5 separate regions of the Homo sapiens genome follow, and regions 2, 3, 4 and 5 are each reported to be linked to region 1. Evidence: microRNA targets listed by miRTarBase, many of them from high-throughput screens and not tested one by one. Region 1 holds a microRNA gene; each other region holds the end of a gene's coding sequence. Distances are from middle to middle.
Evidence for each region. Region 1 holds the annotated microRNA hsa-miR-6500-3p (ACACUUGUUGGGAUGACCUGC, at 1,904-1,924, opposite strand). A microRNA usually pairs through its seed, bases 2 to 8, with sites in the 3' UTR of a target mRNA and lowers its output. Matches are read on the target gene's strand: a 7mer-m8 pairs with bases 2 to 8, a 7mer-A1 pairs with bases 2 to 7 and ends in A, and an 8mer does both.

Region 1 (4,153 bases):
CACAACATAACCAACTGGAAAACCAAGGGCACAGAGAGTATATTGAAAGCAGAAAGACAGAAGCAGCTCATCATCTCTGAGGTATTCTTGATAAGATTAACAGCCAAATTCTTTCCAGTAACTTTATGAATATAAACTATTGTTATGAATATAGACTATCAGAATGATTCCAGCTCCATATAAAAATATTTATGGACCATGACAAAGTGGAATTTATTCCATGAATACAGGCTCAGCATACATTATCATATATCATATTAATAGAATAATGGACAAAAGCCAAACAGTCATGTCATAGATATGAAAAAGCACTTGAGAAAATTCAACACACTTTAATGATTAAAAAAACAAACAAGAAACCTGGAATAGAAGGAAACTTCCTCAGCCTGATAAAGGGCATCTATGAAAACACACTGCTAATGTCACTTTGTGGTGAAAGGCTTGAAAAAATTATCCCATCTTAGTCTGTGTTACTATTAATATAAAGGCATACCTGAGGCTGGGTAATTCATGAAGAAAAGAGGTTCATTTGTCTCACGGTTCTGCAGGCTGCACAAGAATCATGGCATTGGCATCTGCTTCTAGTGAAGGCTCCAGGCTGATTCCACTTATGGCAGAAAGTGAAGAGGAGCTGGTATATGCATATCATATGGTGAGAGAGGAAGCAAGAGAGAGACTAGAGGAGGTACCAGGCTTTTTTCAACAACCAGTTCTTGTGGGAACTAAAAGTAAGAACTCACTCTCGTGAGAATGGTACAGAGCTATTCATGAAGGATCCACCCCCACAACCCAAACACTCCTACCAGGCCCCATCTTTAACACTGGGGATCAGATTTCAACATGAGACTTGGCAGGGCCAAACAAATCATATTCAAACCATAGTACCACCTAAGATCAGGAATAAGACAAGGACGTTCACTCTTACCATTTATATTCAGTGTTGTACCAAGGGCTGCATACCCATCAGTCAGAATCCTTGTGTCATGGCATCCTCCAGGTGTCACTTTTCCAGTTGGAAACCTCTGTGGCCAGTGGTGCCTTTGCCAGAGTTTTGCTCAAGCCTGCTGGGCTTGTTCCACCCACTCGGCCTGGCAGGCTGCACTCAGCTCATGCTACTGGCCTGGCTCCCACACCTTCAAAGAATGATCCAGGCATGGAGAGGAGAGGGGTGCACAAGTAAGCAAGCATGGGGTCTGGCTGCTGCACACAGCCAAGCATTGGCTGCTGTGGTGGGGTGGGCAGTTCCAGGTGCCACCACAGGTGCTGGCTCTGTTCAAGCCTGTGGCTGGATCAGATGCACTATAAGTGGCTTCTGCTCTGGGCACTCACATCTGGACAAGGGGAACATGGTGGCACTTGGAAGCTCCAAGACACTAGAAACCACAGAGCCCCAAAGAGGGTGTCACAGCCCTGGCTGGGGGAGCCTGTGCATCTGAGCTCCCTGAAGGGCTGCAGCTCTTCTCTCCTTCTCATTGCCTGCAGTGTGACGAGTGGGGTGGAGGCAGGTGTTTTAGCTCTGTTTGTGTTATAGCACTTTCAGTCCCACCATTCAACAGGTCCTGAATTTTTGTCCTGTGTCCAGGAAGAATGAGGTATGCAGAAAACTGGAGGGTGAGCAAGGCAGAAAGGAACTTTCTTGAGCAAAAGAGTGACAGAACAGCTCTTGGGAGACCTGGAGTTGGTAGCTCCTTTCCACAGGCAGGTCATCCCAACTAGTTCAGCCCTCAGTAGAGAGGAGCCCCAGATTGGGTAGCTCCATTTCACAGGCAGGTCATCCTGACAAGTGTCCAGCTCTCTGGGGAGAGGAGACCTGGAGTGGGTAGCTCCTTTCCATAGGCAGTTAGTCCTGACGAGTGCATCCCTCAGCAGAGAGGAGACCAGAGTGGGCAGCTCCTACCTGCAGGCAGGTCATCCCAACAAGTGTCCAGCTCTCAGAAGAAAGGACACCTGGAGTGGATAGCTCCTTTCTGCAGGCAGGTAGTCCTGACGAGTGCAGCCCTCAGCAGAGAAGAGACCCAGAGAAGGTAGCTCCTAGCTGCAGGCAGGTTGTCCAGATGAGTGTCCAGCTCTCAGGGGAGAGGAAACCCAGAGTAGGTAGCTCCTTTCCACAGACAGGTTGTCCCAACAAGTGTTCAACTCTCAGCAGAAAGGAGACCCAGAGTGAGTAGCTCTTTTCCACAGGCAGGTCATACTGACAAGTAGAGGAGACCTGAAGTGGGTAGCTCCTTCCTGCAGCTGGTAGTCCTGACATCTGTATGAGTCTAGCTAGGTAACATAGTTTTTATGGGCTCAGAAAGGAAGAAGTGTGTTCTGATTGGCCCATGGGTGGCCATGGGCGGGCCTGGAAAAAGCACCATAAGTTCTCACTCCAGGCCGCAGACTCCACCTGGAGCTGACAGCCCAGCCCCCAGGCTTCATGCCATCCATGGCTTGAAGGTTGCGTTTCACTGGGAACCTGCCCCTTTCTGCCCAGGAGCCTGTCTGCCTCCTGTCACCATCAACATGTTGTCCATGCCGCCCAGGCTGTTCATGCTGAGGTTTGCCTACAGGCCCACACTGAGCCACCCTGAGCAACCCCTTGGTCTCCCTCTTGTGCTCTTCAGTTCCCAAAGTCTGGATGGCCTGAGACAGCAGGGGGCTGGCATGTCAGCACTGCCCTGAGTGCTTGGGTACCCAGCTGGGTCACAACAGTGCCTGGGCTCTGCCACAACTTTGCTCTGCCCCAGAGTGGGGGCCAGGAGCAGGGAGAGGCCAGGCAGTGGGAGCAGGCACTTTCAAGCCTACGGGAACAAAGGGCTTCCGGGGCCCCTGAGACCTCAGGGATGCCTGGGTCTGTGGCTACAGCTGAGAAGCTGCAGCTGTGCCTGGGAGCATGTGGCTCCTGCTCCACTGACTTGTTAGGGGGTGGGGCTCCCACCTGTTCCCGGCACCCGTGGGCTCAGCAGAGTGTGCAGCCCCAGTTGTGCTTCCCCTGCTGAAGCCGGCATCTTCACAGTGGCTACTCCAGACAGGCCACTGCTGCCATCACTTGCACCAACCTGTAGGTGACAGTCTTCCTCCATGAAGCCAGTTCATATGCTCTAGAAGTTACTCCTCCATGAAATATGCAAAGAAACAGCCCAAGGCTACAAGAAATACGCACACACGAAATCAAAGAAACAGGACACCACCAAAGGAACACAATAATTTTCCAATAACCAACCCCAAAGAAATGGATATCTATAAATTGCCTTCCAAACAATTAGAAATAATTGTTTTTAAAGAAGTTCAGCATGCAATAGGAGAACACAGTTGGACAACTCAGTGAAAACAGAAAAAGAGTCTACGGCCATACCACCTCGAACATGTCTGATTTCATCTGAAAACAGAGAAAGAATACATGAACAATACAAGAAGTTCAACAGGAAGGTAGAACTTATAAAAAAGAACCAGGCTGGGAGTGGTGGCTCACACCTGTAATCCTAGCACTTTGGGAGGCCAAGGTAGGCGGATTGCCTGAGCTCAGGAGTTTGAGACCAGCCTGGGCAACACAGTGAAACCCCATATCTACTAAAATACAAAAAATTAGCTGGGCATGGTGGTGTGCACCTGTAATCCCAGCTACTCAGGAGACTGAGACAGGAGAATCACTTGAACCTGGGAGGCAGAGGTTGCAGTGAGCTGAGGTCATGCCACTGCACTCCAGCCTGGGTGACAGAATGAGACTCCAACTCAAAAAAAGAAAAAAAAAAAAAAAAGAAAAAGAAAGAAATTCTGGAACCAAAAAACCTAATGACTGATATTAAAAACACAATAGAGAACTTCAAAAATAGACTTTATTGAGCAGAAGAAAGAATTTGTGCCCTTGAAGACAGGTTATTTGAAATTATCCAGTCAGAGGAGAAAAAAGAATGAAAAAGAGTGAAGAAAATTTATAGGACTTATGGGACACCATCAAGCAAACCAATATGTGCATAATGAGAGTACTAGAAGAAGAAAAGCAAGAGAAAGAGGTAAAAAGCTTTTTTAAAGAAATAATGGGTTAGGTGCAGTGGCTCATGCCTGTAATCCCAGCACTTTGGGAGGTCGAGGCAGGTGGATCACCTGAGGTCAGGAGTTAAAGACCAGCTTGGCCAACATGGTGAAACCTTGTCTCTACTTAAACTACAAAAAT
Region 2 (4,000 bases), 160 Mb from region 1:
ATGCGAGGAGAGTTTGACTCACTGTTGCAGTGGCCATTCAGGCAGAGGGTGACCCTGATGCTTCTGGACCAGAGTGGCAAAAAGAACATTATGGAGACCTTCAAACCTGACCCCAATAGCAGCAGCTTTAAAAGACCTGATGGGGAGATGAACATTGCATCTGGCTGTCCCCGCTTTGTGGCTCATTCTGTTTTGGAGAATGCCAAGAACGCCTACATTAAAGATGACACTCTGTTCTTGAAAGTGGCCGTGGACTTAACTGACCTGGAGGATCTCTAGTCACTGTTATGGGGTGATAAGAGGACTTCTTGGGGCCAGAACTGTGGAGGAGAGCACATTTGATTATCATATTGACCTGGATTTAGACTCAAAGCACATTTGTATTTGCCTTTTTCCTTAACGTTTGAAGTCAGTTTAAAACTTCTGAAGTGCTGTCTTTTTACATTTTACTCTGTCCCAGTTTGAAACTTAAAACTCTTAGAATATTCTCTTATTATTTATATTTTTATATTTCTTGAAAGATGGTAAGTTTCTTGAAGTTTTTGGGGCGTTTCTCTTTTACTGGTGCTTAGCGCAGTGTCTCGGGCACTCTAAATATTGAGTGTTATGGAGGACACAGAGGTAGCAGAATCCCAGTTGAAAATGTTTTGATATTTTATTGTTTGGCCTATTGATTCTAGACCTGGCCTTAAGTCTGCAAAAGCCATCTTTATAAGGTAGGCTGTTCCAGTTAAGTAGTGGGTGATGTAGTTACAAAGATAATATGCTCAGTTTGGACCTTTTTTTCAGTTAAATGCTAAATATATGAAAATTACTATACCTCTAAGTATTTTCATGAAATTCACCAGCAGTTTGCAAGCACAGTTTTGCAAGGCTGCATAAGAACTGGTGAATGGGGTAAGCATTTTCATTCTTCCTGCTGAAGTAAAGCAGAAAGTACTGCATAGTATATGAGATATAGCCAGCTAGCTAAAGTTCAGATTTTGTTAGGTTCAACCCTATGAAAAAAACTATTTTCATAGGTCAAAAATGGTAAAAAATTAGCAGTTTCATAAGATTCAACCAAATAAATATATATATACACACACACATACATATACACCTATATATGTGTGTATACAAACAGTTCGAATGTATTTTGGTGACAGTAATAAATCAATGTGAGGATGGATAGAATTTAGTATATGATAGAGAAAATGTCATAAATGGATAAAAGGAATTTACAACTTGAGGAGAAAACCTTTACAATTTCCTATGGGTGTCAGAAGTACTCTCAGCGAAAACTGATGGCTAAAACAGTATCTACTATTCTCTGATAACTTTTTTTTTGAGACAGAGTTTCATTGTCACCCAGGCTGGAGTACAGTGGCATGATCTCAGCTCACTGCAAACTCTGCCTCCCGAATTCAAGTGATTCTCCTGCCTCAGCCTCCTGAGTAGCTGGGATTACAGGCGCCCGTCACCACACCCAGGTAATTTTTGTATTTTTAGTAGAGACGGAGTTTTGCCATGTTGGCCAAGCTGATCTCAAACTCCTGACCTCAAGTGATCTGCCCGCCTCGGCCTCCCAAAGTGCTGAGATTACAGGCATGACCCACCGCGTCAAGCCTCTGACAACTATTGAATTTGTAAGCTGCTATGCAAATGGGCATTTATATAAACTTGTGATGTTTCTTGTCAGAATTCTGAGTACTCTGTGAAGAACAGAAATGATCATATTCTTATGCATCTATCTGTATGGGTCTGAAGGTGTATATACAAACTGAGATGAGTCCTTATGACTCTTGATAAGCCTGAGTTTAACAACAACAAAAATGCCAAGTTGTCCTGAGCCCTTCTGCGTTGTTATGCCACTTCCCTACTGCTCATATGCACGCTGGCTCCCCTGGGCACGCAAGGATGAGTATGGGCCATGGGCCCCTGTAGAGCTGCTTACCTGGTGATGACCATGCACCTTACAATTTCTGAACAGTTAACCCTATAGAAGCATGCTTTATATGAGTGTCTTCTGGGAAGAGGAACCTTCTTAATCTCTTCTGTGGGATTTTCAAAATGCTAAAGACTCACACTGCAGCAATCATCCCAGATGATTAAATTCAAAGAAATAGGTTCACAACAGGAATATACTGAAGAACTAGAGTGTCACTGCTGGTGAACTGTGGCACGGTTGCTCAACACATCACCTCGGACAAATTCAGGAAGCATTTCTTTAGCCCACAAGTCCAGACCCAGGTGCTCTGTATGTTTGTTTTTAATATTCATCATATCCAAGTTCACTCTGTCTTCCTGAGCAGTGGAAGATCATATTGCTGTAACTTCTTTTAAGTAGTTGATGTGGAAAACATTTTAAAGTGAATTTGTCAAAATGCTGGTTTTGTGTTTTATCCAACTTTTGTGCATATATATAAAGTATGTCATGGCATGGTTTGCTTAGGAGTTCAGAGTTCCTTCATCATCGAAATAGTGATTAAGTGATCCCAGAACAAGGAATACTAGAGTAAAAAGCACCTCTTTTTCACAAAACGAGTTGTGATTTTTGTTTTAAACAAGGTGGATCCATGTAAACTATTTTTCCTTTTTTTATGAACAGGACAGTAATTTTTCTTCTGTATCAATAAGATTTAAATTTTTATTTCCATTTTGGGTTAATTTTGGTTCCTGATGAAAAGATAACAATACACTAAGCATAAAGGGGAAGTTAATAAGTTACAGAAGGATTATAGTGGGGGTGTGTGTGTTAATAATGCTTATTAACAAGTCTGAAATCTGACTCCTGATTTCCACATTTGGTATTTTCAGAGAAAACAAGAGATAGTCACAGCCAGGATCAATTCACAGTGCCAGTCCTGAATACAATAGGACAGTGAAGTACAAACCCTTTGTGTGGTCCCTGGATAATCAGTCCACGCTACTGACTACCTCTTTTCTCTTAGAAAGCAGTTGGAGACATACGTCTCAATCTTATATAAGAATTCTGAGCTGGAGATAAAGGTTTGATGGAGGCACAGTAGGGGTCCCAGGTGGTGAAATCACACAGGAATAACACATTCTATGGGAAGAGGAAGACGAGCCTGTAAAGCATTTGGAGAAGGAATGATCAGAGGTAAGAGAAACACCAAGGAAGGTGGGAAGAGAAAAGAATGTCAACAGGGCCAAATGCCAGCCTCGGAACAGCAGCCACTCCCAGAGCACTCCCACAGCCCTTCTGAACACACTCTCACCCCCATGCTGCTCTCTCCTCAAGTCTGTATCTCTGACCCTGGCCTTTGCCATAAGCTGATCTGAGTACCTGCTGAACATCTAAATTCAGGAATCCCATAGGGACTTTAAGAACCACTTCACCATACGGAACTGGAAATCTTCCTACCTTCCCCACTACTGCCAACCTATTACTCCTCAATTTTTTCTACCTAAATGACATCATTGTCCGAGCCAAAAGTTTGGACACTATTTTAGATTCCTCCCTCATCTTCCCTATCCAGTAACCCACCCTGCACTGCCAATTTGATCTCCAAATAATTTCTTTAAAAGTATTCCTACTACTTACCCCTCCTCAGTACTACTGTCCTGTTTCAGGCCTACATTATTTTTTAACTTACAACTATTCTTCCTATTTTTAGTTGTGCCTCTTTGAAATCCAACCTCTACAGTGTCACCTGATGATCCGTCTCAAATGAAAATCTGAATATGACTCCCACCCCACCCACACTGTGGCTTCATAGCCCATAGGAAAAAGCCCAGCCTCATGGAGTGCCATACAAGGCCCTCCATGCCACTTGTACCTTTCCGGCCTCACCTCCTGACATTTCTACTTTGCATTTAGCAACACCACCCCAAGCTATCTGATATTTGTCTGAGCTTGTGCTATATGTCTATCTGGAATACTCTTTTTTTTGAGATAGGGTCTTACTCTGTCACCCAGGCTGCAGTCCAGTGGCGCAATTACAGCTCACTGCAGCCTTGACCTCCCTGGGTTCAGGTGATCCTTCCACCTCTGCCT
Region 3 (4,000 bases), not on the chromosome of region 1:
ACAGTCTTCAAAGCCAGTCCACATTTTAATTTGCTGATGGCATGCACTTCTTGATTTACATAACATGAATAACCAAGTGTTCCAAGCCGTAACCCTTCATTAGACAAAATTTTTTAACATTTCATTTTTGGCATTCTGTTGGAGGTGAGGTGTGGCAGCTGTTTAAAAGAATGTGCGTGGTGGTATGTATGTGTTTGAGAACAAAGAGCCATACTGAAATTACAAAATGATTAAAATACAATTTAGTAACCCAAATTGGAATCTAGCTGGGATTCATGAGGGATTACTATTCTCCCTATACTTTAACAGTGAGCTTTTTTTAACAGAGTATAGGGACTCATACTTTGCCAATGATTAGTAGACTCTCAGCATAAATAGAGGAAAGAGTATTATCCTAAATGTTTACATAGGGTAATAAATAAAAACTACTAAGGTAAAAAGTTCAGTGCTTTACGTAGATAGTAAACTATGCATAGTATTTTATTTGTAACCCCATGTGTTAAGAAGGGACACTGTTAAAGTAACAATCATTTAAAAGTAACAACCAACAAACTGGTATTTAATTTGGTATTTTAAATAGTTAAAAATCAAATGGAAACAGTGTCTAAAGTCACTAAGATAATTCATAACAAAACCCATTAATCCAAGCTCCACTTATTGTAAATAGAATTCACCATGAGCTAACCTAAAATGTACCTGTGGAGATAAAACAAGAGTGTAAGTTAGCAAAGTATTAAATAAAATTTCAGGGAGCCCCTAAATTTATTTTTAAGAACTTTAGAACTAATTCTCTATATGCAAACACTGATTAACTCAAATATCTTGTAAGTTCATTCATACATGGCCTTATTTGAGGCAGTGTATTTGTATTCACTAGCAAAATTCATGTCAGTAAAATATTTTTGAAGCAGTTTATTTCCCAGATATTTCACTAGTTTGAAATAGTCATTTCAGTGATTAGTCTGAATTTCTATTGAAGCCTAAGCTTTGAATGAAGACATGCTTCTGAAAATAAGGCAGTTTTTCTCTAGTCTGCTTATCAATAGAAAACAAATCTTTGGTTTTTAGTTAAAGTGACAGGAAGGATTTTTGCAAAAAGAAAAACTAAAGAACCAAAGCAATTAAAAAGCTCTTGATAAGCAATGGGGAACTCCAAACCCATCAAGGTCAGTAGAGTACCTAAGGCACCTCAGCTTCAGATGTGACAGTCATCTTTGCTTAGAGTTCTGATAATCTATATACATGATTTTTACCATCTTGAGAATGTGAAGCTGAAAAGGTAACATCCAACAATGATTACTGTGAATAAGAAAATTACTGTGATAAATGGGAGAGACGTTGGAGATCTCTGTTCTACCTCCCATATTTATAATGAGGAAACCAAATCCCAGTCAAGAAACAGGTGACACCAGTTTGTGTAGACAAATTCCTAATCTGTTTCTGTTAGGGCAGGGCAAATTCTAGACTTCTAACTTTGAATTAGTAAACCAAGTGTGAAGGGTTTCAGAGATATGAATTGGAGCCCCCTCCCCCCACCAAAAAAAATCCTCATAAATCCCCAAAGGCAAGTTGGAAATGTGTAATAGTTTACTGTTGTAATTCGTTTATACCATGTGTTGGACAACTCAGCTAATATGTTAATTGATTTATACAATTCCTTTCAATTTTATCTAAAAATAAGCAGACCAAAATTAAATAAGAAAGTTACATAAGATTCCATTTGAGCATACATAAGGCCATGATACTTTAATGTGAACCACCATTTCTTGGAAGAAAGAAGACATCCAAATGTCCGATTCAGAGAGAAAGTTCCTGGCCAGTCATCCAGTAGACTCTCTCCACTCTTCAATGGGAAGGTGATGCTTATATTTTTAAAAATCTCTACAAAGCTCACATACAACAAGACAGTACATCCTAGATTTGTGACTGATATGAGCATTTAAGGCTGTCATTTTCAAGTATAAAAGTTTAGTGTTCCATTACCCAATCTGTGCAGTAGACATAGCTATAAGCTCAAGTCATGTGAATTAACAGAAGCCCACCAAAGACATTTAAAAAATTATAATTTGGGCAACAGCAAGTTTAAATGTAGGAAAGGCTAGAAAAAATGTGATGAGATTGTTTCTCTAAAATGCATTAGGTTGTTCACAATGAAGCTTTGTCTAACACCATTATCTGATGCATCCATTATCTGATGCATGGCATATGCAATAAGGCAGATCCACAGCAGACCAAACAAGGAAGCTGAATTAGGTAATAGAACTAGTAATTAAGATGGTTCACCTCTAACACAGTTCTGTGGCCTGTTCCCCCCAGAGAAAGATTAGAAATGGCTCCAGTGTACCAAATAAGCTTCACAGAAGAACATGAAAATTTTCCTCCAACTTTTTTTTCTTTTTTTTTTCAAGCAGAGCCTTTCACTTAGGGACCAACTGCTTGTAGATGAAATAAATCAACATTAATTACTTCTAGCCTGATGTAATATGGCTGGAGAAAAGGGGTCTCTGGAAGCCGGTATTTTGTTTAACTTACATTCTAGGTGTGTATATAAGTTGTCGCTCTATAACTTCTGCTGTGGTTCCAACATCTATATCTGAAAGGTGGAAGCAGCTGCTCTGTTACAATTTTCATGTAACACGCTTGGATTCTAGGTCTTTCCTCTTTAACACAACTTAAAGAAAGTTTCTTGTGGTTTGGTCAGCATACACACTTCTCATTTCATTTGATGTACACAGCCAAAGTGGGAATTAAAAAAAAAAAATTACCAACTAGTTCAGAGAGCTAAATTGAGTCTATCATTATGGCAAAGTCTGACCCAAAATTTTAATTTGTAATTTTAGCATGTGTCTCATGCACTTTGGGGAGCGTCAAACTAAATCTACAATTGCCAGAAGCCTTGTTACAGTTTAATGCACATTAACTAAAATGTGTACATTTTTAGTGTTCATGATAAATGCAGTTATGACCTTATTACACTTTTGGCATTCTTTAAGAAAGCACATTAAGCTTTAATATAGAAATATTTAGGTTACACTTGTGCTCAAGTAATAATAAAACATTTGTTCTTTTTTGATCTCATACATTCTCTCCTCAGGTATGGCCCATCTCCTGTACGCTTGGAGCGACCTTTGGCTACGTGGCTGGCCTTGTTATTTCACCACTCTGGATATACTGGAATAGAAAGCAACTTACATACAAGAACAATTAACTGGAGCAAAGGGAGATATTTCTTTGTGCAGATTCTGTAAGGGCTGGGCAGAAATGTGTATGGTCAAAGCCAAGCAGTTCCATTTACAGCTCTGTTTTTTACGTAGTTACAACATGATGTGATTGTAGCTTTTTAAACTATGAAACCCCTGAGAGATTGTACCTTCTAGTTGAAATAAAGTATTTATAATAGATTGTGGCTTCAGATGCTGCTTACTGCTTCTTAAACCTTTAAGGAACATTCTTAATACACTTTATAGAATTCTGAGGACAGGTTTTGTTTTCTTTCAAGTTTTGAACTGCTTCATTACCTATAAAAGGTCTGGGTATAGCTGTAGCATTTCATTTGCTTTCTGAGAGAAATGGACAGTTTCCTTGGCCACTGAAGATGTTTCTCACGTAATTAAACAACAGTTTATACATCTTGATCCTATTCTTTTTTTTACAGTGTGTTTCTTTGGAGTTAAAATGGCTATGATAGCCTCATCAAAAACAGTCTTCAATCCCTTCTGGGTTAAAGCTGAACATTCCACATAGCAGCATGCTCCTATCTGGGAGGGAGAAAAAAAATCACAAATATATAAGATCATGTTTATACAATTGGCATGACATAAACACATCATTATAAAGAAAATTATAAAATACAGCTATGCAAAAAGAATACATTCATCATCCATGTTCATAACCCCAGAGGGGATTTTAAAATACTAGTATATGTCCTTCCAGACTTTCTATGAAAAATTATTTCACTCACCACATATTTACTGGGTATCTACTATATGTCAAGCACTGT
Region 4 (4,000 bases), not on the chromosome of region 1:
GCCATTGCATTCCACCCTGGGTGACAGAGAGGGAAGGGAAGGGAAAGGAAAAGGGAGAGGGAAAGGGAAAGGGAAAGGGAAGGGGAAGGAGATGGAGGGGAAGGGGAAGGGGAAGGGGAAGGAGATGGAGGGGAAGGGGAAGGAGATGGAGGGGAAGGGGAAGGGGAAGGGGAAGGGGAAAAGAAAGAAAACAGAACTCATACTGTCAAGAAACCTTATAAAAGTAAGAAATGTAATCAAGCTCTCATCCTTAGATGTTTAGTTCCAAGAACCAACTCTCATACAGCCTTTCTCAGTTGAGTTTCTATCACTTACAACTGAAAGAATTCCAGCAATGGGCTATAACACAACTATCAAAAGAATAAGGTGGATTTGTATGTACAGACATATTTTTCTGCAATATATTAAGGGAAAATAGCAATAGCAATTCTCAGAGCATTGATATATTACACCTGTTTTGTTTTTAAAATATATATTTTTTTCTATTAATAGTGAGAACTAAAAAAAGAGGAGAATGTTCACCACATATAAGACTTTAAAACATATACATATATATATTTAATCACAGAATAAAACAAAATGTTATAAAATTAAATGCTATGCATAAATTTTGCATCAAAGGCCAATTATCAAAATTTATTTCAACTTAATTTCCATAGAAGCCTGTGGAATGTACTTCCTAGAAAGGAATAAGAATAAAAACAGCAAACTGAATTACAAAGAAACATGAACGACACGGTTCTTATGAGCTCATCAGTGTTCTATTGAACTTTCTTCAATCTCCCTCTGAAAAGCAAAATCCAGAAAATGATTATTTCACCATCCTTCTGTAACTCCAGAAAAGTGAAGTGTATATACACTTGAGATCAAATGATCTCTGGGCAGTTTTTAAAAATATATTCGTGTTAATATCTATGGTGCAATAATACAACAAGAAACTGAAGAAGGGAAATACATCTAAAGAAGCTAAAATAAAATACTCAAATCAGCAAAATAGAATTTTGCTACCTGCCATAAATTCAAGGTCACACTAAGAGTGGACCATAAGGACAGGACACACAATTAGTCAACACAGAAGGCTATCCTTTCTCCACATCAGTGTTTTCATCTCAAATATCAAACCCATACCCCTCTAGGGCACTCCCTAAATTCCCTATGCTATACCATTTGAGATGTTTAACTCTCCATGATTGAGGCAAAATGTACTGCATATAACTTAAATAAGAACAAAGTAGGCCTACTCATTATAATGAATCATGTGAATAAAAATTAATATAAGCTTAGATTTAAGCTAAAATAGACATGAAATCTGAAAAACTCCATGTTATAAAAAGAAACAAGGAAGGTATAAATGTTACTAACTTATCTACAAAATCTAAACCAAGATAAAGTAGAAATTCAATTGAAAAATCAATGTGATTTGGGAGGCTGAGGTGGGTGGATCACTTGAGGTCAGGAGTTTGAGAACAGCCTGGGCAACATGGTGAAACCCCATATCTACTAAAAATACAAAAAAAAGGCCAGGCACGTGGCTCATGCCTGTAATCCCAGCACTTTGGGAGGCCAAGGTGGGTGGATCACTTGAGGTCAGGAGTTTGAGACCAGCCTGGCCAACATGGTTAAACCCTGTCTCTACTAAAAATACAAAAATTAGCCAGGCATGGTGGCTGTCATACCAGCTACTTGGGAGGCTGAGGCATGAGAATCACTTGAACCCAGGAGACTGAGGTTGCAATGAGCCGAGATCATGCCACTGCACTCCAGCCTGGGTGACAAAGTGAAGCTCCATCTCAAAAACAAAACAAAATAAAATAAAAATAAAATAAATACAAAAAAAAAATTAGCTGGGCATGGTGGCGGGCACCTATAATCCCAGCTACTCAGGCGACTGAGGCAGGAGAATTGCTTGAATTCAGGAGGTGGAGGTTACAGTAAGCCGAGATAGTGCCACTGCACTCCAGCCTGGGTGACAGAGCAAGACTCCATCTCAAAAAAAAAAAAAAAGTGATTTTTTTTTAAGTTGAATAAATGGTTTTTATCTTAAGGCATCACATCTAGAGGCAAAAATTAAAAAAAAGAATAAAAGGTTTTAATATCAACATTTGGCTGAAACTGATGCAGAAATGAACATTACTTTTTAAACCTCCTTGCAACAAGATTTTTTAAAAGTAAAAATACCTTTCAATGATCAAATAATAAATCTAACATAAATCCTACATTTAGTAGCATCCAAAAAATAAGAATTATTTTTTACTCAAATTTAAAAAACAAACATAACCACACTTAATGGGAAAAAATGTAATACTCTTTCTAAAGCATGAAAACAGATACCAAAATACCATGTATTCTTAAATGACCACATATGCTACACTGACACTATGGCCCACAGTGAGTTTGAAAAGATATAACAAGATTCAATTTTGTTATTTCATCACTATAATTTTAATCATTAGGCATATTAATGTCACATACAGTTTTTAAAATATAAATATTTTTAAAGCTGTTTTACAATATGATAACAAGAACACCCAGCAGATACAGGTTGTACAGTTAATCATTTTGACTGTGTCAGTAATATAATCAGAATACTGTAACGGTAAGAGAAAAATACTTTTTTTTTTTTTTGAGACTGGGTCTCGCTCTGTCGCCCAAGCTGGAATGCAGTGGCGCAATCACACCTCACTGCAGCCTCAACCTCCTGGGCTCAAGGATCCTCTAGCCTCAGCCTCCTGAGTAGCTGGAACTACATGCATGCACCACCACACTCAGCTAATTTTTTTTAAATTTATTTTTAGTAGAGACAGGGTCTCACTATGTTGCCTAGGCTAGTCTTGAACTCCTGGGCTCAAGTGATCCTCCTGCCTCAGCCTCCCAAAGTGCTGCGATTACAAGCGTGAGCCACCGCCTGGCCCGAAAAATACCTTGTTTTTAATCATTCCCATTCAGCAATAGTGAAAATGCTCTATGTACAACATTGGCTCTGAATAACACATTTCATTTCTGCTTCAAACCTCCTATGCTGTCTATCGCTGTTTTGACGACTGCATAGCTCAACAGAAAAATGCGTCCCATTGACGTCTCAATAATAAGTCTGATTAGGCAGATAAATTCCCAATCATAAAAGCTTTTATTTTAAGACAAGTATTATGCAAATACAGGATGGAAATCAGACTCACTGTAATTGGGATGAAAAGGCAACTCTAAGAAGAATGCTGTACATATGACACCTATTGCATTTTTATGCACTAGTCTTGCATTCCCTTCCTTACTTCCTCGTCTTTGAAGTGCTAAAGGTAATTACACTAAAAAGTTACTACCAGGCTTAATATGAGAGAACCATGTGTATAAGAAAGCAAGACTTTCAGATAAGCAATCTCCAAATATTTTCTATTTTATATGCATTTATGATTTTTCTTATAAAGAGGGAGTGTTTTATGTGCAACACCTGCAAATGGAAATAAATCTACCTTTCACTCAAGCCCAAATAATCAAATATAAAATACAGACAATACAGCAAACTACAATGGCAGCAGTGATTCTTAGGGCAGCATGTGCAAAATCCAGTATTTTGCTATCTACTTACATCACTGTAGTCAGAAAAGAAATGTGCCAAAACTACCTTTCCCATTCCACTTGAACTGGTTCCCCACAATCCCAACAAACATCTCCTGTGACATTAAGTTGTCATCAGCTTGCGTGATCCCCAGTTCACTCAACCTTTTCTTCTTTATCTGGCCTTTCTGTGTGGAGGCAGCAATTAGTTCATTTACAATTTCACAATTTCCCTCGACTTGCTCAGAAGGGTCAGTTCTTGCACAAAGCTCCATTTTACCAGTTGCACACTCAATCAGCTCTTCTAGATCCACTCTTTCAGCCACATCTGGCTCTCCACTTGTCTGAATTTTAAGCGCTTTATTTTCTGGAGAAACAAACAAATAATAACAAAGTTAAATATACAAGCTAACCCAACAAAAACATATATTTCTACACAGTCTTCTCA
Region 5 (4,000 bases), not on the chromosome of region 1:
AAATACTTGCTATATCATTTAATGACTCTTGGCAGAAAGCAAAAACACTTCACTTGAACATGGTATTATAAAAATATGTATTTTACTAACTTTCATAGGAAATTTAACTATTTGATGAAATGCCTTTGTATGTTACCTGATTTTCATTTGTACTTAACAATTTGTCTTAAAGATGATACATAAAAATGAGATGAAAATATATAACCTTCCCCATAAACCAAGATTTAATCTTGGAGATTAAATGTTGCCCCAAGTGAAATAGCTAAATTCAATGGATTTTAATTACTTTTATCCCCATGGGCTCCCCGTCCCCCCACCCCCACCTTAATTTCTTCTATTTTCCCCTTAGATTGCAATGATTAATTTGCAAGTTTGGTCCCATACTATCCATGAAACTAAACAAAACATGTGACAGCCCAGGTGATTCGATGCCACCTTTTGACTAAGCAGGCAAAGTGCCCTTAACGCCAGCCTGGGCCCATGCCCTGACGCGAGGGTGGTGGTGGAGATGGCCCACGACCCTCTCAGCAGCCACATGCTTCCATGCCCTTGGGCCATGGTCCTCCTGGTGATGGGCTGCCGGGCGTCTTCGGAGGCAGCTCCCGTCCCCCACTTTCCACTCTCAGGTTGTCCTGAACCCACACTTTCTTGACTCTGAATATAACAGCAGCCTATGGACTCCTTTTCACAGGGCAGCAGCAACTTACCAGGATACATGTTTTCCCTTGAATGAATCCTGGGGTCTCGGAAGCCACTCCTCCCTGCCCGTGCTTTCTCTAATAGCTCTTTTGGGCGCTGAGACTCTAAGTGTAAAGCTTAACACTCACCCAGTGGAAGCAACAGCCTTACCGAAAGCCTCCTTAATGTTGGCTTAGACAGGAAATGGAAATGGCCTGCGTTATCCATCCTTTAAAGCATTTCTAGTGCTCAGCCTCCATGAAATGGATTGCTTATAGGGAGATAATGTCTGTTCTATTCCTTTTTAAGTCTGTGAAAAATGTCATCCTGGTTAATAGGGTGATTAAAACTCTTTATGCTCCAGGAGATAAATGTGATTATGTTTGTCATACTCAACCCAAGATAAAGACAGCAAAGAAGGCAAACTTGAAATTCCATCACATTTCCTCTCTTCCATATCCAGGGACATTCAGAGCTCAATACACAGATGGTACGTCTCATAAAGAATAACATTATCTGTTCAACATTTTTCCTTTCCATTAACCAATTTAACAATATGCCTCTGGTACAAAAGGAATAGACAAATGACGAAATCTACTGATATTCAAGTTCTGACTGTGAAAAACACCACTTGAGTCATACTGCTTGTTTTCTTTTTAAATTTCCATCTGTGCATTACTTCACCTTTGCTTTTAAGATGCAATTGGAGCTGACGCTTGGTCCCTCTTTTAGGGAATTTGTCCCTGCCAGCCTCCCCTCTGCAGGGGATTCATCATCATTCTAATGGGAGTTCCCCTGCCATCGGTCAAGGACAGCAGAGGTGACATATAAGGGTTTTGTAGACACGAGGCATGCCACTCTAGTATTAGGACACTCTTTCAGCAACATATGTCTAGGCCTCCTCTGTGCCAGCCCTGTGGGAAAGCAGAGCCCCCACCATGGCCCCTGGCTCCTTCCTAGGGCCTAGCTGCCATCAGCCTGATGTGCAGCAGCCTCTGCAGCGGTGCTGACACCAGTTTACAAGGCCCTGAGAGGGGTCCCTGCCCTTCGGGAGGTTACAAGGCAGGAATCCATTAACAGAATCAGTTAACAATGATTTCTCCTTTTAACACTCCAGACAGGTGGGCAAGTCTCCTTTCTCCACCCAGTGGAGGCCTTTAGAAACCACTAGGCATTCTCCATCTATGAAAAATAAAACCCAGATTCTAGCTGTAAACAGTTTTAGGTAGTGCCCATTCTTTTTCCCCCCACATCAAACGAGTAAAGTGCATCGTTGTAACAAGGTTTGAGGGCCATCTCATGCACGTTGGAAACCCACATTTATGAAGCACAAAAGGATCAGGCGGTGCCCATTCTATTCAGAGGAACCTAGATTCAGACTAATTGTATGGACGAAAACCTGTTCCTTTGGCTCCTGCCTTTCCTTCCTTTCATTCAAAGCCTACAGATCTCTTCTCAGAGGAGATTTAGTTACAAATGAAAGGCAGTGAAGAGTTTTTGCTACCCGCATTCACTGACCAATTTCACAATCCTTTCCTTTCAGTCTTGGATTTTTAACAGATTACATATGAATTCCAGATGCTGATTACACCTGTTTCATTAACAATACAGCAATTTTAACAGGGTAACATGGTCTAGAGAAAAGTATTACATTAAGTTCTTGTCATTTCATTTAAAAATCTCCCTTAGAATAAAAGGTTTCATGATAACAGAAATTTCAAATGTCCTTTATTAAACCTGATTGCTGACTAATTAGAGCCTAGGCAAGTAGGAAGAAATTGCACAACTGATATTTAACTACAGGTTTTTTCTCTGGACATATTGACATATTAAAGTATTTCTCTTCTTGAAAATATTTTAAAATACAATTGCAGTAAAAACAATTGCATGTAGACATTATTCTCCATCTGTTTTTTTTGTAGGAGACTGTGGAAGACAGGAGGGAGTTGGGCGTGCACACAGAATTTACCCTAACAGCTTTGTTAGGGAGGTGGTCCCAAATACTTTATATTGGGACTCCGTACTCAGGTGACTTTCTGGTTAAAAATATTGAAGACGGATGACAACTGGGCTTTTTTTACTTTGACAACTGAGACAAAATGACAAATTGTCAGTGTTCAGAGATCCAGACCAACTTCTCAAAAAAATATGTTTACCCCTGATATCATCATTATTTTAGCCCAACTGTGCCTTTTGGGGTGATCACAACTCATTACTGGCTTTTTGTTTTAAGTATAAGAATTTATAGGGCCTTCAAGCAAGGGCATCAGGTAAATAACTAGCATGTGTGTGATGGCTGTAAAGCACAGACCACATTTAGGACCCGAGAGCCACACCCACTTCCTACCATACAGGACTTACCAGGTGACTGTCACTTTGTAGTCTGGCTAATCAGAATAAGACTTCCAAGTTCTGTCATATATTGACAAGAAAGGCTCTTGAAACTCCTTTAATTAGACACATTGCAGTACTATTGCTATTAGGGGGTCTGTTTTATAAATATTTTCTTATCATACTTTTATTATAAACTTTTTTAGTATGAAATTTGCTTCAACTGTTACAAACAGAATCATTTCCTATGGGGTCCCCTCCACATAAGGAAGTTATTCCTGTAATTACTATTTTTAAATAGTCTTCTTAACTGTGGGAAAACTTTACCCTCCCCCAGCACGCACACACATACTCTCCTGTGATGAGGCTGAATGCTATCCAGTGCACTGGTTCAGTCAGCAATCTGCCCATGTTCCTGGGAGAAATCAGTCCCAGTCCTTTTGCTGTCATGGTGTCTCCAGAGCCACCCCTTTCTGTAACAAGCATTTTGAAATTCATCCATGCTCATCTCATTTGGATTTCAATGTTTCCTCCCACTCAACAGCCGATTCGGAGTTCTTGGGAATTGTTGGAAATATTGATTGCATTTTACTTCGAAAGTCGTTCATCTAAAAGAAGAAAAATAATCAGTTATCAAATGTTAAAAGAAGGAGAAAAACAGCTATTAGAGATGGCACCTTTGCTGACTGGCTAGTACTTCACTGCTCACAGATACAGAGCTAAGGAACATCAATAAAAGATAGGGACTATATATATCCTAGGTATCTTGAAAGAAAATGAAATATACTTCCTTTCTTCTTCTGAGTATAAATTTATTAATAAATAACATAAAACTTCACTCTTAGCTGGACATGGTGGCTCACACCTGTAGTCCTAGCTACTCGGGAGGCTGAGGTGGGTAGATTGCTTGAGCCCAGGAGTTTGAGTCCAGCCTGGGCAACACAGCAAGACTCTATCTCTTTAAAAACAAACAAACAAACAAACAAACAAA

Region 2: the mRNA of TRAF5 is a reported target of hsa-miR-6500-3p. Seed matches in the 3' UTR shown: 7mer-A1 at 1,408-1,414 and 7mer-A1 at 1,543-1,549.
Region 3: miRTarBase lists RHOQ as a target of hsa-miR-6500-3p. Seed matches in the 3' UTR shown: 7mer-m8 at 3,032-3,038.
Region 4: the mRNA of SHCBP1 is a reported target of hsa-miR-6500-3p. Seed matches in the 3' UTR shown: 7mer-A1 at 1,706-1,712, 7mer-A1 at 1,578-1,584 and 7mer-A1 at 1,443-1,449.
Region 5: the mRNA of TMEM242 is a reported target of hsa-miR-6500-3p. Seed matches in the 3' UTR shown: 7mer-A1 at 50-56.

The regions. Positions count from the first base shown.
Region 1 is chr1:51,057,843-51,061,995 of GRCh38, reverse strand. It overlaps MIR6500 (microRNA 6500), which reads right to left and starts at 1,978; the gene lies at 1,893-1,978. MIR4421 (microRNA 4421) reads right to left here and starts at 2,159; the gene lies at 2,091-2,159.
Region 2 is chr1:211,372,424-211,376,423 of GRCh38, forward strand. TRAF5 (TNF receptor associated factor 5) reads left to right here. Exons shown (of 11, transcript NM_001033910.3): 11 at 1-2,523. The coding sequence ends at 279. Among named protein-coding and RNA genes, the nearest start is that of LINC00467, 8.3 kb to the right of the region's middle.
Region 3 is chr2:46,580,686-46,584,685 of GRCh38, reverse strand. RHOQ (ras homolog family member Q) reads right to left here. Exons shown (of 5, transcript NM_012249.4): 5 at 1-3,758. The coding sequence ends at 3,603. It overlaps PIGF (phosphatidylinositol glycan anchor biosynthesis class F), which reads left to right. Exons shown (of 6, transcript NM_002643.4): 6 at 3,095-3,749. The coding sequence ends at 3,208. Among named protein-coding and RNA genes, the nearest start is that of RHOQ-AS1, 2.4 kb to the right of the region's middle.
Region 4 is chr16:46,578,136-46,582,135 of GRCh38, forward strand. SHCBP1 (SHC binding and spindle associated 1) reads right to left here. Exons shown (of 13, transcript NM_024745.5): 13 at 456-3,919. The coding sequence ends at 3,594. Among named protein-coding and RNA genes, the nearest start is that of SHCBP1, 41 kb to the right of the region's middle.
Region 5 is chr6:157,289,383-157,293,382 of GRCh38, forward strand. TMEM242 (transmembrane protein 242) reads right to left here. Exons shown (of 4, transcript NM_018452.6): 4 at 1-3,617. The coding sequence ends at 3,519. It also overlaps the pseudogene LOC124901551. Among named protein-coding and RNA genes, the nearest start is that of TMEM242, 32 kb to the right of the region's middle.